Regions from separate parts of the Homo sapiens genome. Here region 1 is linked to region 2. The links come from fine-mapping of genetic effects on gene expression. Tissue or cell type: subcutaneous fat. Region 2 holds a variant in brackets; the other region holds the start of a gene. All regions are shown on one strand. Distances are between the middles of the regions.

What was found. PIP is the estimated chance that this variant, and not a neighbour inherited with it, causes the effect.
Region 1: ARSD starts here. The variant in region 2 is fine-mapped to the expression of ARSD in subcutaneous fat (FUSION, PIP 0.95).

The regions. Positions count from the first base shown.
Region 1 is chrX:2,926,112-2,934,211 of GRCh38, reverse strand. It overlaps ARSD (arylsulfatase D), which reads left to right and starts at 4,873. Exons shown (of 10, transcript NM_001669.4): 1 at 4,873-4,980. The coding sequence starts at 4,937. RefSeq lists silencers at 4,856-5,205, 5,226-5,385.
Region 2 is chrX:3,373,563-3,381,668 of GRCh38, reverse strand. No RefSeq gene overlaps it. Among named protein-coding and RNA genes, the nearest start is that of MXRA5, 31 kb to the right of the region's middle. The variant A/T (reference allele first, on the strand shown) is at 4,575.

The DNA of each region.
Region 1 (8,100 bases), 450 kb after region 2:
CAGCAGCAGCCAGGTGTGGTGGCACACGCCTATAATGCCAGCTACTCAGGAGGCTGAGGCAGAAGAATTGCTTGAAGCCGGGAGGCAGAGGTTGCAGTGAGCTGAGGTCGTACCACTGCACCCCAGCCTGGGTGACAGAGCAAGACTGTCTCATCAAAAATAAATAAATAAACAAACAAACATTAATAATGCACCGTTGAATGATCACTCAGACACCAAACTGGAGAGGCAAAGTATCTCCTGCAGTCGGGGAGGAGTCTGTCAATGGACCCCAGCTCAGTCTGGAAGAGGCTGCCCTGTAGCCCAAAACAGCACAAGTCCCAGCAAAGGTGTCTCTGTGACCTACAGGTTTGCACATGAACAGGAGATAGGCCCCAAAGATAAAAACTGGCACTGATGTGGCTTTGTCTGTGGTGCCCATTTATAGTGTTTGTTTATCGTTTACGGCCACAAGGATGAGCCGTGCTTCCCGTTGGAACTGTTTTCAAGTGGTTTTCCTTTGTCTCCAATGCCCCAGGTGATTTGGGCAAACTCTGGCTGTGGAAGCCGCGCTGTGCAGGAAGTGTTCGCCCCAGCTCTGAGCTGCAAGGTCATTGCATAATCAGGCTGCGCCTTAATTGTCTGGGCTGCTAGAATGAAAATACCATAAACTGGGTATCATCAAGAATATTTCTTTCTTGCAGTTCTAGAGGCTGGATGTCCAAGACCACGGCGTGACGGAAGCTGTGTCTGGGGAGAACCTGTTTCTCGGTTCACAGCTGCTGCCTTCTTCCCATGTCTTCACACGGTCATCCCTCTGTGCCTGTCTGTGTCCTATCTCTGATTCTTGTTTTTTGTTTTTTGTTTTTTTTTGAGATGGGGTCTTGCTCTGTTGCCCAGGCTGGAGTGCAATGGCGTGATCTCAGCTCACTGCAACCTCTGCCACAGGTTCAAGTGATTCCCCTGTCTCAGCCTCCCGAGTAGGTGGGACTACAGGCGTGCACCACCATGCCCGGCTAATTTTTGTATTATTTAGTAGAGGTGGGTTTTCACCATGTTGCCCAGGCTGGTCTAGAACTCCCGACCTCAAGTGATCCGCCCACCTTGGCCTCCCAAAGTGCTGAGATTACAGGCGTGAGTCACTGCACCCGGCCCTAATCTCCTCTTCTTATAAGGACCCCACTCCTATTGGAATAGGGCCCACTCTTGTGACCTCATTTTAAAGGATGAATAAAAACCTTATTCCTGTGAGTTTGAAGGCAACACAATTCAGTCCCCAGCACATTCTCCCCTGGGAGTAAGGAGGTCTTTCCAATAGCTCTTTCTGTCTCCAGATTCAAGCAACAGGTCCCTCCTCCCACTCTTCCAAGCCTAGGTATGTGACGAGCAATGCCCCACCTTGTCACCGCCTCAAGAACATGTCCTCAAATTATCCAATCCACATCAGCCTCCAAGAATTCAGGCTGTGCATACAGACCAAAAAGTCAAATCCATCTCCAGCCAATTCTCTTGGGTCAAGAAAGAAATAGTAGGCCAGGTGCGGTGACTCACATCTGTAGTCCCAGCACTTTAGGGCACTAAGATGGCTTGAGGCCAGGAGTTTCAGACCAGCTGGGGTGACATAGCGAGACCCTGCCTCCGCATAACATTTAAATAATTAGGTGTGGTGACACGTGCCTATAGTCCCACCTACTTGGGAGGCTGAGGCGGGAGGATCACTTGAGCCTTTGGCCTCCCAAAGTGTCCAAGGCTACACTGAGCTGTGATCGTGCCACTGGGCGACAGGGCGAGACCTCATCTCTAAAAAGAAAGGAAGGAAAAAATGGCAGGAAGGAAGGAAAGCAAAGAAGCAAAAAGAAAAAGGAAGAAAGGGAGGGAGGGATGGCAGGAAGAACCAGTTAACCCCTATGGCTTTCCCCATAGCCATGGCTTATGGAACAAGACCAGCACTTTGGGTCAGCTGTGCCCGATGTTCCCGGCCCACAGAGTCACCTTTAAGTTCTTCAGCATCCACTGGGGAGAGTCACCTCTGTCTCCACACTTGCCCACACTCTTGAGCTTGATGGCTTTGAAGCCAAAGTCCCCATGGAGGCTCCATGTGCTGAAAGTCATGTGAGACCCTCAGGGTCAGGGCTTACCCACCCTTTCCATCCCCACAACCTCCCGCAAATATGACTTCTGGAGCACCAGCTCCTACTGCCCCCAGGCCCCATTTCCAAATCCTGGGCACCCAAGACAGCTCAGTGTGTTTACATAATTTACCTAAGGGCACCCAAAGTTCTTTTCTCTCTAGTTCTCAGGAATCTCAACTCCCAGCAGCATAGGATTTCTTCCAAGGATCAAATCTCCGCGCCACCCCTGCTAAACCTCCTTGCAGAACTGCTTCTGGGCTGTCTCCTGCCCCCCTCCTTCCAGGCCTCGGCCTGGCCTTCTCCATCTGCATGACAGAGGCTCAGCAAGGAATCCCAGTTGGGAAGCCCTCAAAGATAAAAAAGTTCTTTTTTAAATTTTTTTAGAGACAGGGTCTTGCTCTGTCACCCAGTCTGGAGTGCAACGGTGCAATCAGCTCACTGCAACCTCAAATTCCTGCACTCAGATGACTCTCCCACCTCAGCCTCCCAAATAGCTGGGACTACAGGCACACCACCATGCCCGGCTAACTTAAAAAAATTTTTTTGTAGAGACAGGGTCTCTCTGTGTTTCGCAGGCTGTTCTCAAACTCCTGGTTTCAAGCAATCCTTCCCCCTCAGTCTCCCAAAGTGCTGGGATTACAGGTGTGAGCCACCAAGCCTGTCTGATAAAAGCTATTTCAGAGTAACAGGGCAAAGAGAGAAGCAATAAACAGTGCTCAAGAGCTAGCTCCAGACAGATGGCCAGCGTAATAAATGTAAATGAACTAAATTTGCCAATTAAAAGTGAATGGTCTTTTTTCTAAATAGAATTCCCAGCACCATTTTGGGAGATTCCAATTGAATAAATTTAGGGAGTAGGGCTCCTGACTGTATTGTCTTGAACAAGCACCCCCATCATCTCATCCCAGGGGAGTGTGGGGCAGCTCCCTCATTTATGAAAATCCTAACTCAGTGAATTTAAGGAGGGGCTTCTGAATCTATGTTTTCAACACAAACTTCCACCCCGCCTCCCCTACCTTACTGATTCCATTTGGTAAGCATAGAGAACTGAGTTGCAAAGGAAAAAAAAATGGCATAAATGTTGGAGGCAGAATAATGGTGAGGAGGACCTGGATATGCTTCCCACCTACACACCCAACATAGAGTCTTGTGGCTGGTCAGGCACAGTGGCTCACCTGTAATCCCAGTACTTTGGGAGGCCAAAGCAGGAGGACTGCTTGAGGCAAGAGTTTGAGACCAGCTTAGGCAACATAGTGGGACCTAGTCTCTAGCAAAAAAATAAATTAACAAAAATGTGTCAGGGGTGGTGGTGCACACCGGTAGTTCCACTTCCTTGGGAGGCGGTGACAGCCTCACCCTTGACAGCCTCAGCCTTGGAAAAAGAAAGTACTGTTAATCTTGAAGACTATGGAATCATTTTGTCCCTGACCAGTGGAAGAGGACCTAAGCAACCCCCTTTGAGGGAAAGTGGGTCACCTGGGCTGGAGGTAGGGATGTGATATTGTTTTGTAAGCTAGCATTTCCTACAAAATATGAATTTATACTTTGACCAGATCTTGCATTGTGAGGGGATGTGAGGGGATGAGGTAAGACATGAAGGGGCTTGAGAGAATCAGCGACTGGAGGTCAAGAGAGTTAGACAAAAACAAAGGCTCACTGCAGCCTCAACTCTCAGCCTTGATCTTTCTAGAGGTCAAAAGAGTTAAAAACAAAACAAACAAACAACAAAGGGAGAGCCAAAGATACAAAAAAAGCATTACGTGAGAGGGTAATGAGCAAAATAGCATCATTCAAAAACAAAAGGATGAGTCACAGAAAAGATGGGGAGGGGTCCAGGGCACAGTGATTAATCAAAAGGAGTAATTTCAACAGCAGTCTGATGAAAGAAACAAAGATAAAAATAGCAATTGGAATTAGCCGGGCGTGGTGGCACGCGCCTGTAGTCCCAGCTACTCGGGAGGCTGAGGCAGGAGAATCGCTTGAACCCAGGAGACGGAGGTTGCACTGAGCCGAGATCGCACCACTGCACTCCAGCCTGGGCGACAGAGTGAGTCCCTATCTCAAAATAATAATAATAATAGTAATAAAAGCAAAAAAAAAGGGCCCATCTAGCATTCCCCGTCCCAGACTTAGAGTACAAGTCCAGCATCCGGAACAGACATTTCAAACACCAAGCTTTGAGAAACTGAAATCGCAACTTGATTGCTCTGGGTAGGTCCTAAGACCCTTCCTGACAAAAAGAAAAGGGGCTCCCTGTGCTCAAGCCTAACTGGGTTTATTTTTTATTTTTATTTATTTATTTTTTGAGACGGAGTGTCACTCTGTCGCCCAGGCTGGAGTTGCAGTGGCGCGATCTCAGCTCACTGCAACCTCCACCTCCCGGGTTCAAGCAACTCTCCTGCTTCAGCCTCCCGAATAGCTGGGACTACAGACGTGAACTACCACACCCAGCTAATTTTTGTATTTTTAGTAGAGACGGGGTTTCACCAGGTTGGCCAGGCTGGTCTCGAACTCCTGACCTCAGGTGACCCACTCGTCTTGGCCTCCCAAACTGCTGGGATTCCAGGCGGGAGCCACCGCGCCCGGTCAATCGTAACTGGGTTTAATCAGCTCCTTAGCCCAGGCCTTCCCGTGTGACGACCTGGGAAAACCTGTTTCCACGCGCAGGTCCCGGAGGTCCCGAGAGCCAGGAGATGACGCGGATGAAGGAGGGGCGGGCGCCCGGCCCAGATCCCGCAGCTGAGAGGGCGGAAGCCTTGGCACTAGCGGCGCCCGGGCGCGGAGTGCGCAGGGCAAGGTCCTGCGCTCTGGGCCAGCGCTCGGCCATGCGATCCGCCGCGCGGAGGGGACGCGCCGCGCCCGCCGCCAGGTGCCTGGGACCCCGGGACGCGGCCCATACTAAGGCCTAGGGTGGGGGCCTGGGGAGGGGGTCGCGAGCACGGCGAGGGGCGCCCCGGGCGAGCCTGGGCCCCTGTAAAGGGCGTGGTTGTGTCCGGCGCCTTGTAGTCTCCAAAATGTAGCTGGAGGCGCGTTCTGTGCCCGGGAAAGACGCCAGACAGCAGAGCCCAGGGATGGGGGGCGACTGAGGGGACGAAGGGCGGGTGGAGGAGACCGAACTGAAGGGAAGGCGGAAGGGCAGGGAAAGAGAACAAAGGAGGAAGGGAAGGGAGGGCGGAGGAAGGCTGGCCGGGACCCGGAGGGAGCGGAAACTGGGCCGGTCACGCCCTGCTGGGTCCTCCGCCTTCCACGCCCAGCTACACCGCTGCCCGGATTCGGCCTTCAAAGGCTCCCTAAGACCCGCCCCGAACCGCGCCCCCCGCTCTGCCCCACTAAGACGCGCCCCGTCCCGCCCCAAGGCTCCATCCCCCGAAGCGTAGCCTTGCCCGCCCCACTTCCTAAGAGGCACCCCGTCCCGCCCCCAACCCCCCAGCTCGATGCCTTCCAGCACGGCCGTGTTCCCCGGGTCCACTAAGACGCTCCCTGTCCCTCCCCAACGCCCCGTCCTCCCGAGCACAGCTGTGACGCCCTCCCGATTTCTAAGAAGGCCCCTTCCCGCCCCCCGCCTCTTCGGCCCCACCATGACATGCTCCATCCCGCCCCCCGGCCCTTTGCCTTCCCAGCACGGCTGTGCCCTCCCCCTCATCCCACTAAGACGCGCCCCGTCCTTCCCCCAGACCCCATCCTCCCAAGCACGGCTGTGACTCCCCCAACACGCTCGGTAAGACACGCCCCTTTCCCCCCCGTGGGCTTCATTGGGCGCCCTCCCCCCAGCACCGCCGTGCCTACCCCGGTCACCCCCCAAGACTTCTCTGTCCCGTCCCCATCTCCACCACAAGCGCGGCCGTTACTTCCCTCTGGCCATCCCCCGGCGCCTTGGCCTTGTGCCGCCTCCATGTCCCCACCCTCTAGCACCGCCATGCCCCGCTGCACTTCCTCAGATGCGCCGGGTCCTGCATTCCCAGCTTCATTTGCGCCCCAGTGCCACCGGTAGAGGGTCGTGACTGCAAGTTGTCCAGGTTCTTGGCGTTTTGAACAAAGAATTGGACAAAACGCCCAGCAAAGAAAGAATGAAGCAACAAAAGAAGGAAAGCAGGGATTTATTGAAAACAAAAGGACACGTCACAGTGTGGGAGCCGACCAAGCAGCGGCTCAAGGGCCCGGGTACATAATCTTCTTGGGTCCAAATACCCCCTAGAAGTTTCCCATTGGCCACTTCATGCTCACCTCATGTAACTGAAGTGGTGGCCCGCGATCAGTCTGATTGGTTGCAGGCAGCAGCCAACCAAAGGGTGAAGTTACAAAGGTCACACTCCTGTGCAAACATCTGATTGGTTGCAAAACCCAACTAATCAGAGACTAGGGTGAAGTCACAAAGTTGCACACGAAGACTAGACCCGAAATCAGTCCGATTGGTTGCAGACAGCCAGTCTACTATCTACCCAATAGAAAAGGTCAAAGGGAAGCCTTCGGTCCTTTTGTTACTTAGGCATGGAAAGTTAGGATTTTCCCGCCAGGCGAGGTGGCTCATGCCTGTAATCCCAGCACTTTGGGAGGCCGAGACGGGTGGATCACCTGAGGTCAGGAGTTTGAGACCAGCATGGCCAATATGGTGAAATCCCGTCTCTACTAAAAATACAAAAATTAGGCCGGGCCTCTACTAAAATTACAAAAAAATTAGCCGGGCGTGGTGGCAGGCACCTGTGATCCCAGCTACTCAGGAGGCTGAGACAGGAGAATCGCTTGAACCCTGGAGGTGGAGGTTGCAGTGAGCCCGGATCATGCCATTGAACTGCAGCCTGGGCGACAAGAGTGAAACTCCATCTCAAAAAATAATAATAAAAATTAAAATTAAAAAAAAAAGGAAAGTTAGGATTTTCCTTTCAATTTACTTCTAGGAAGTCGGCATGGAAAGCCTTAGGTTCCCTGCCTCCAGACCCTATTCTCCTGCCTCAGCAGCACTGCCGTGCCTCTCGCCACCCTCCAAGACACGCCCCGTCCTGTCCCCTTCCGCGGCCATTGCCCTGCTGGCCACACCGGATCCCTCCCCATGGCCTTATTCCTCCCCTGCCCCCCAGTAGAGCCGTGTCCCCTCACACACCCTGAGACACACCCCTCGTTCGCGTCCTCCCCGGAGAGCACAGCCACGATCCCCCAACACTAAGACACCACCTATCCACTGCAGTTCAAGGACTGCTTGAATCAATCCTCCCACCTCAGAATCAGGCAGAGGTTGCTGTAAGCCACCATCATGCCACTACAGCCTGGGCAGCACAGCAAGACCCCATCTCAAAAAAAAGAAAAAAAAGAATAATAAAGCAGATTGGTTGTTTCAAAGTTACTTTTCTTACAGGGTTAAAGCACGGGAGACTTTGTTAGCTCAGATGAACTACACATCTTCTTCTTGCTTACTCAAATCTTCTGTTTTTTGGAAAACTGACCTGTTTCCCTGTTCAGCTTGACGATGTGGCAGTTAACACAAGTGACTCCATTCCAGTTTGTTCTGACCTGTATGGTCTAGTGTGGCAGGCCAGGTCTCACTAATGCAGGCCTCCGTAACAACTGTTTCAGCACTGACTGAGTGTGAAGTTACATACTAAAAGCTGAAACAACCAGCGCCTTTATGCACAGGCTGGGATGTAACAAAAGCACACCAAGAGTTCTGCCCAGGCCTCTCCTGGGCCTTTGAAGCATGACAAGATAACGAAGGAATTCTTAACAGGACCCATTTAGGATTAAACAAGTTTTATTGTGGGTCTGAAGAAACTCCCCAGACCTCCACAAACAAGCTTTGTTGGGGACTAAAGGAACTCCCCAGAACTCTGTGATTTAGCAGGAGACAAGATAAGGGTAATCACCCCAGCACCTGGACCCATCTAGATTAAGTCAATTCACCGAGGCTCCAGAGGAAGGTCTTCAGGACTCAGATCTTAATTACAGATTAGAAGAAGTTAATCACTTATGTCTTTAGATAAATGCACACTTACACTTA
Region 2 (8,106 bases):
ATACTGTATTCTTACAATACAGTAAGCTAGAGAAAAGAAAATGTCATGAAAGAAAATCATAAGGAAGAAAAAATAGATTTGCTATTTATTTATTTATTTATGATGTTAGCAAATATGTTCTTTTTTTTTTTTTGAGACGGAGTCTTACTCTGTCACCCAGGCTGGAGTGCAGTGGCATGATCTCAGCTTGCTGCAAGCTCTGCCTCCTAGGTTCACGCCACTCTCCTGCCTCAGCCTCCTGAGTAGCTGGGACTACAGGCGCTCATCACCATGCCTGGCTAAATTTTTTTGTATTTTTAGTAGAGACGGGGTTTCACCGTGTTAGCCAGGATGGTCTCGATCTCCTGACCTCGTGATCCGCCTGCCTCGGCCTCCCAAAGTGCTGGGATTACAGGCGTGAGCCACCATGCCCAGCCAATATATTCTTTTTTTAAACTTTCATTTTCAATGGATCATCCTAAAGGTCTCCATTCTCACTGTCTTCACGTTGAGGAGCAGGAGGAGGAAAAGGAGGGGTTGGTCTTGCTGTCTCAGGGATGGCAAAGGTAGAAGAAAATTCACGTATAAGTTGAAAGCTGTGTTCTTCAAGGGTCAACTACATGCACACACAAACACATTCTATTAGTTCTCTTTTATCCTGACTAATACATCAGGCAACAGGTGTAATGTACATCAACGTTATAAATTCAGTTTTCCACTCACTTAGTATCCTTGCAAATGGTGAAATTATACATTGCACAATTGTTGAACATGCTACATAGGACATGAACATTTATGTCTGTTGTAAAACCTACGAGCGGAGAGTGCAAACCAGAAAAGGAAACCATTTTCAGACCTCTGAGAAGCTGTGCTGTGTATGTGTATGGGAAACCTCACACCCTCAAAGTCATTAGAAACCAGGGTATTTAACCACATGGTCTGAGCCACCAGAACTGCTCCAAATTGGAGGGCAGTTTGTAATTGTAGTGATTCTTTTGTTGGTTGTCAACTTACAGGCCATGCCTTGTCCTTTATTCTTTCTTTCTTTGGAGACAGGGTCTTGCTCTGTCTCCCAGGCTGGAGTGCAGTGGTGCAATCATAGCTCACTACCGCCTTGACCTCCTGGGATCAAGTGATTCTCCCACCTCCCACTCCCAGGTAGCTGGGAATACAGGTGTGCACCACCATGTTGGGCTAATTTTTTTATTTTTTATAGACAAGGTCTTGCCATGTTGCCCAGACTAATCTTTAACTCCTGGGCTCAAGTGATCCCCCCACCCCAGCCTCCCAAAATGCTAGAACTACAGGCATGAGCAATCATGTCTGGCCTTGCCTTGTCCTTTGAAAAGAAGGAGGACGCTTCAGGAAAGAAGAAACAGAATAATATAAGATATACAAAATGCAACTAAAAATAGGATATAAAGAATACAGATTATAAATGAGTGATAGAAAACCAGGGTGATATGACAGTGAGGGCTGACAATGAAACCACGAGGATGAACACAGATGATGATGTGTCTGTACTTTCTGGCAGTCTAAATAAAGAAAGAACATAGTCCTTGACAGTTTTCAATATTAAATAGAAGAAAGTGTGGTGCTATTTAAGAAGCAAATCCTTTTTTGATACTGGACTCCCATTTTCTTGGGACTTCCTATATATAGAGGAGAGATACATAAAGTGGACACAGTCTTTCCAGATATTTCAGGAGCTGACTCAGTGATCAATTTCACAGGGATGTTTATAAATGCATCCTTTAATAGCAGTTGCTGGCAGCTCTTGAAACACAAATACCAAGGCATGGCAGTAATAATCAAATTATCTACAGCCTGGGTGACGGAGTGGGACTCTGTCTCAAAAAAAAATAGCTAGTCTGATTGAAATAAGAATATATCTCATTATGGTTTCAATTTGCTTTTCTCTGATGATTGGTCATGTTGAGCAATTTTTCATATGCTTTTTGGCCATTGATATGTCTTCTTTTGAAGACTGTGTGTTCATGTTCTTTAACCACATTTTAATAGGGTTATACGGATTTTTTTCGTTATTGTTGAGTTCCCTGTAGATTCTGAATATTAGTTGGATGCAGAGTTTGCAAATATTTTGTCCCATTTTGCAGGTTATCTCTTCCTGATTGAACCTGATATACTAGAGATTCTGCATATGTTGCCAACATAGGAAAGCTCACTCTAAGAGAAACTTCAAGAACCCCCCACTCCTGGCATTCATTCCCTTGTATAATCATTTTCCCTGAGTGTAGGCAGGATGCACGACTTGCTTCTAATGAACACAATGTGTTGACTGCAATGGAATGCAATTACCAAAATTAGGTTACACAAAGGCTGTGGCTTCCATATTCCTCATCCCCCTCACTGGCTTGATTGGGTGCTTGCTATGAGGGAAGTCAGCCTGTGCGTCGTAAGCTTCCCAATGGAGAAGTCCACGTGACTCAGAATGAAAGGAACCTTCTGGACAACAGCCAGTGAGGAACTGAATCCCACCAACAGCAATGTGAGTGAGCTTGGAAGCAAATCCCTCTGCAGTCAAGCCCTGAGATGCTGTAGCCCCCACCTCCACCTCAACTGCAAACTCCTAAGAGACCCTCAGCTGTGAGACCCAGCTAACCATGCCGGCTCATCCTCAGATCCCAAGCCCACAGAAACCAAGACAATACATGTGTGTTGTGTGTGGCTTTAAATGGCTCAGTGTTGGGGTTAATTTGTTACACAGCCATAACTAACAGGGTTATGAGTCACTACCAAGGATAACATATATTTAACCTTTCTAAAGTGTGTTTTATCATTGAATCTGTTTTGAATGAACCATCCTGTGAGGTTAGGATTCTGTGGACTACCTACTCGTGAAGCGAAATTCTCTCCTAGAATGTGGAGGAAGTTTTTTCATCCTGGAAAAAATATACATAGGCAGTAACGACAAACCTGCAGCATTATTGCTAATAATAATGATAATTATTATTAGTATTACCACTATTTTATGTTACAGGATATCTATTCATGAGGTACTGGTTGTCTACCAAGTCAAACCTTCTCAATCTTTGTTCTTACCCCAGTCAGGCTTCACCAGAATTCCAGGGAATCCAGGCTGGCTGAACTCACTCAATTCTCAGAAGAATTTCTTGAGCTTTCCAGCACTCAGGATCAGAAGAGAGAAGGAGCCATCCTTCACCCATAGAGGACGGAAGGAGATGGAGAAATAGCTTCCTCTTTCATCTCCCCAGTGCAGCCTTACAGTTATCCTAAAAAACTGTAGTTGCAACTTTGGCAGCAAATCCAGTCATAAATCCTCAAATGGGCTTTTCCTCTTTTCCTGTTTCACGTCCTTCCCTCCACTTCCTGAGCTCCTGCTCCAGGAAGGGAATGGGCTCCATTTCCAAATAAATAATTGCACAGAAACCTCGGTCTCCTCTTCTGCCCTGAGTGCTTCTGTGAGGATAGGTTACCTACAAGATAAATTATTGGAGACACTAAAAACAAACAAAAAAGAGTGCACGGTGTTCTTGGAAATCAATTCATTGTATTTTTGTAACATCTACAAAATAACATTGTCTTTATTCTTAAAATAATAATTCATAGGACCTTTCTGGCTATCTGGTTCTTAATTAGTCCCAGATGAAAGTTATGGAAAGAAAAATAGCAACTAGAGGTATTCTGGTTAAGTATTTGAATTGTGAGAAGAAAGAAAAATATTTTAGAAATACCTCACAGAAAAGTGCTCACACACACTCACATACACACACACACACGCAACACACACACGCACACATACACACACATAAACACACACATGCACATACACACGTGCACATACACACATGCACATACATGCACATACACACATGTGCACACGCATGCATGCACACACATGCAGACACGTGCACACATGCACACATACAGTACACACATACACACGCACATACACACACATGCACATACACACACACGCACACATACACACATACACACATGCACATACGCACACACACTTACACATGCACACACGTGCACACACACATGCACATACACACGTGCACACACATACACACACGCACACACACGCGCATACACACATGCACATACACACACACAGTGTCAAACTGATGAGGGGCTAATACCTAAACTATACAAAGTACGCCTATTATTATTATTTTTTAAAAATAATCTTTCTACTTTTTTTTTTTTTTGAGACAGAGCCTCACTCTGTCACTTAGGCTGGAGTTCAGTGGTGCTATCTCGGCCCACTGCAACCTCCGCCTCCTGGGTTCAAGCGATTCTTGTGCCTCAGCCTCCTGAGTAGCTGGGATTACAGGCGTGCACCACCACGCCCAGCTAATTTTTTGTATTTTTAGCAGAGATGGGGTTTCGCCATGTTGGCCAGGCTGGTCTCAAACTCCTGGGCTCAAGCGATCCTCCTACCTCAGCCTCCCAAAGTGCTGGGATTACAGGCATGAGGCACTGCTCCTGGCCAGTATGCCTATTAAGATGAAAATAAAACCCACGAGGAAAGGCAAAATGGGTAGCAATGATAATTCTTACAAGAAGAAACTCGAATAGTTTGAATGCATATAGCAGACAGGGTG[A/T]TCTCTCCCATCCCAAAGATGTCATGTCCTACTTCCCAGAGCCTATACAAGTGTTATGCACCATGGCAGTAGGAAATTCAGGTTGTATATGGAATTAAGTTTTCTCTCATCAGTTGATCTTAAAATAAGGGGAGTATCCTGAGTAACACAGGTGGTCCCTTGTGACCACTAAGGTCCTTAAAATGTTGCGGGGAGGGAGAACTAGAGAGGTGGCAACTTGAGAAAGACTAGACCTGGTGGCTATGGCTGGCTTTGCAGATGGAGAAAGGGGCCATGAGTCAAGAAACATTGGTAGCTCCCATTAAACCAAAAGTAACTGAGACAGATTTCAATCAGTTTAGAAAGTCTATTTTGCCAAGGTTAAGGGTGTGCCCTTGACACAGCCTCAGGAGGTCCTGATGACATCTGCCTAAGCTGGCTGGAGTACAGCTTGGTTTTATGTATTTTAGGGAGACATGACACATCAATCAATACATGTAGGATGTATATTTGTTTGGTCCAGAAAAGCAGGACAACTCAAAGTGGCAGGAAGAGGGGCTTCCAATTGGTTGAAAAAGTTATTATCAGTAGAAAGGAATGTCTGGGTTATGATAAGGGGTTGTAGAGACCAAGGTTTTATGATGAAGATGAAGCCTCCAGGTAGCAGGCTCCAGAGAGAATAGATTATAAAGGTTTCTTATCAGAGTTAGAGAGTCTGTTCTATCAGTGATTCCAAAAGGGAGGAGGGCATGATGAGGCATGTCCAGCTTCCACTTCCCATCATGGCCTGAACCAGTTTTTCAGGTTAACTTTGGAGTGCCCTTGGCTGAGAGGAGGGATCAGTTCAGATAACCAGGGAGCAGGGGTGCAGGGGTGGGGAGGGGGTGTTAGGATTTTATTTTTAGTTGACACTCCTAAAAGCTAGAAATGGCAAGAAAATAGATCCTCCCTGTGTAGAGCCTCCAGAAGGAACGGGGTCCTGCCAATATGTCAATTTTATCCCAGGGAGACTCATTTTGGACTCTGACTTTCAGAACTGGAAGATACTCAATGTGTGTTGTTTTAAGCCACTGAACTTGTGGGAATGCATTGCAACATCCCTAGAAAACTCATTCAATGAGTACGAGGAGATGCCAAAATCAAAATGTAATGAGAAATAAAAATGAAGATAATAAGATATCACTTTATACAATTAGAGGAGAGGGAGGAGGAATAAGAAGAGAGGGAGAAAGAGGAAAAACATATTTTGTTGCATTTTTTTTCAGGCAGTGTTATTGAGTCAGCGTTTTTCCTATCCTACAGGAGTACATGTTAATAAGGCAGCCTGTTATTGAAACATGGTACAGACAAGGCCAGTTTCAGTCTTGCAAATGGATGAGAGAAAGCCTGGAATATTCCTGGCTGGTTTATCAACCTACTGTCCTCAAACTGGGCACTGAAATATTTGACTAAAATGTTCTCATTTTATCACCCTACAGACCCATGTAACAGCAACCACAGGAGACTCACACACTCATCATCCTGCTGTTCAAATTTCCCACAAGACAAATGCACCCCAGGCCTTTTGCACCTGCTGGCCCCTCTTCTTGGAATCTTCTTTCTCCAAAAACTGAATTATTTATTCCAACACCACCTCCTCAGAATAGCTTTTCACCTGTCCCTTTCCAAAATTACCTTCTCCTTCCTCTTTGCCCTGATTCACTTTTGGAAACAGTTCCTATGTGAGGTTAGTGTTTATTGTACTGTGTCTGACTCTTTGTCTAGAATGTGAACTCAATGGAAACGTCAGTGTTCTCACTCATGGCCCTGTCTAGGGTTAGGGGTAGGGGTAGGGTTAGGGTTAGCAGTAGGGTTAGGTTAGGGTTAGGCATCCTGGAGCCATCAATAGCTATTGAAAGAATGAATGAGCATGGCCAGGTCTATGTTTAGAGGGTCGACTTCTGGACAGGGACATAATATCTTCTTAAGCAGTGAGGAGGACAGCAAGAGCCATCAGGCTGTCATAGGGAAAGAGTAGAAGTGCACCTATTGCCAGTGGAAATCAGAGTTAGGGGACACTGCATGGGTCTCTCTGATTCTGAGACACCCAACCACATTGTGAGCCTCCTTCCTTGAGTGGTCTGGGCCCCAGTTACCTGTGATGGCCTTTAAGTTTACTTTGGAAGTCACCTGTGAGCATCCAGAAACACCTGCACCAATGGTTCTGCCTATAGGGATTGGACTTCATTGGTCCTGGGTGTAGTCTGGATTCTGGGAGTACAAATGTTCCATTGCCAAAGGTCCATGGCCAAATCTACATCCTATATGTCTGTGGTCTTGGGACACTTAGAAGTTTTCTATACACATTTTTCAAAGAGTTGTTCCAATAGAGAGGCAACATATCTCTAGCCTTCTCTTTCTCCTTCCCCCCATACTATTTCTCAGTAGAAGAGTTGTTGTCTACTGCCAATTGGAAAACACTCACTTGGCACACTGCACATCTTTTCCCTTACGTGATTCTATTGTGAGACACAATGTCCCTCCTTTTATCCCTTCAAATTCTCCCTGGTCTTCAAATTGCATCATACATCACGTGCTGACACTAGCTACCTTTGTTTTGGGTCTACACTTTTGTTCTCATGGCATCTCTTGAGGTAGCCCATGAATTCCTACATTGCTTCTGAGAATAAATGACAGGCATTCCTTAGGGTTGAAAAATATTGGCCATTCTCTTTGGGAGCTAAAAGGAAAATATTGCCCACTCAATCACTTTCTCTTTATTACTTTCCATTTCTATTCTTTATGATACTCGTGGAAAATTAAAAGTCAGCCAGTTCCACTTATGGCTGAACACATGGCCAAAAAACAGAGTTGGCCTCAAATAAAAGAAAATTACAGCATTTTTCTCCCTGTAGAGAACTATATGTCATAAATATAGATGGATAGTACAACAACTCTTACATCCTTAAGGGATAGACACCCATGTGCAGACACATGTTTTGTCTAAATCAAGTTTAAAATTGGGTTTGATTTACTCTTCTGAGGAAAATATAACCTTCTTTATAAGAAAGATTGGCAAATTCAGGATCTCCCATTTTCCCTGACCCATGGCATCCTCTGCCTCCCACATCCCAAACCAGTTTGATGCTCACTATACATTTGTTTCTGTCTTGGGATCTAGGCATTATCATATCCATTTAGAGGTTGTTAGACTCACAAGAAGAACATTTGCACTCCCAGAATTCAGACTACATCCAGGTCCAGTGAAGTCAAATCTATGTAGTTAGAACCATAGGCGCAGGTGTTTTTGGAAGCTCACAGGTGACTTCCAAAGTCAGCTTAATGGTCATCACAGGTGACTTCACTGTGTGTCTGGAGCCAAAACCACTTATGGAAGAAGTCTGATATGGTTTGGTTGTGTCCCCACCCAAATCTCATCTTGAATTCCCACGTGTTGTGGGAGGGGCCTGGTGGGAGGTAATTGAATCATGGGGGCAGGTCTTTCTTATGCTGTTCTTGTGATAGTGAATAAATCTCATAAGATCTGATGGTTTTATAAAGGGGAGTTTCCCTG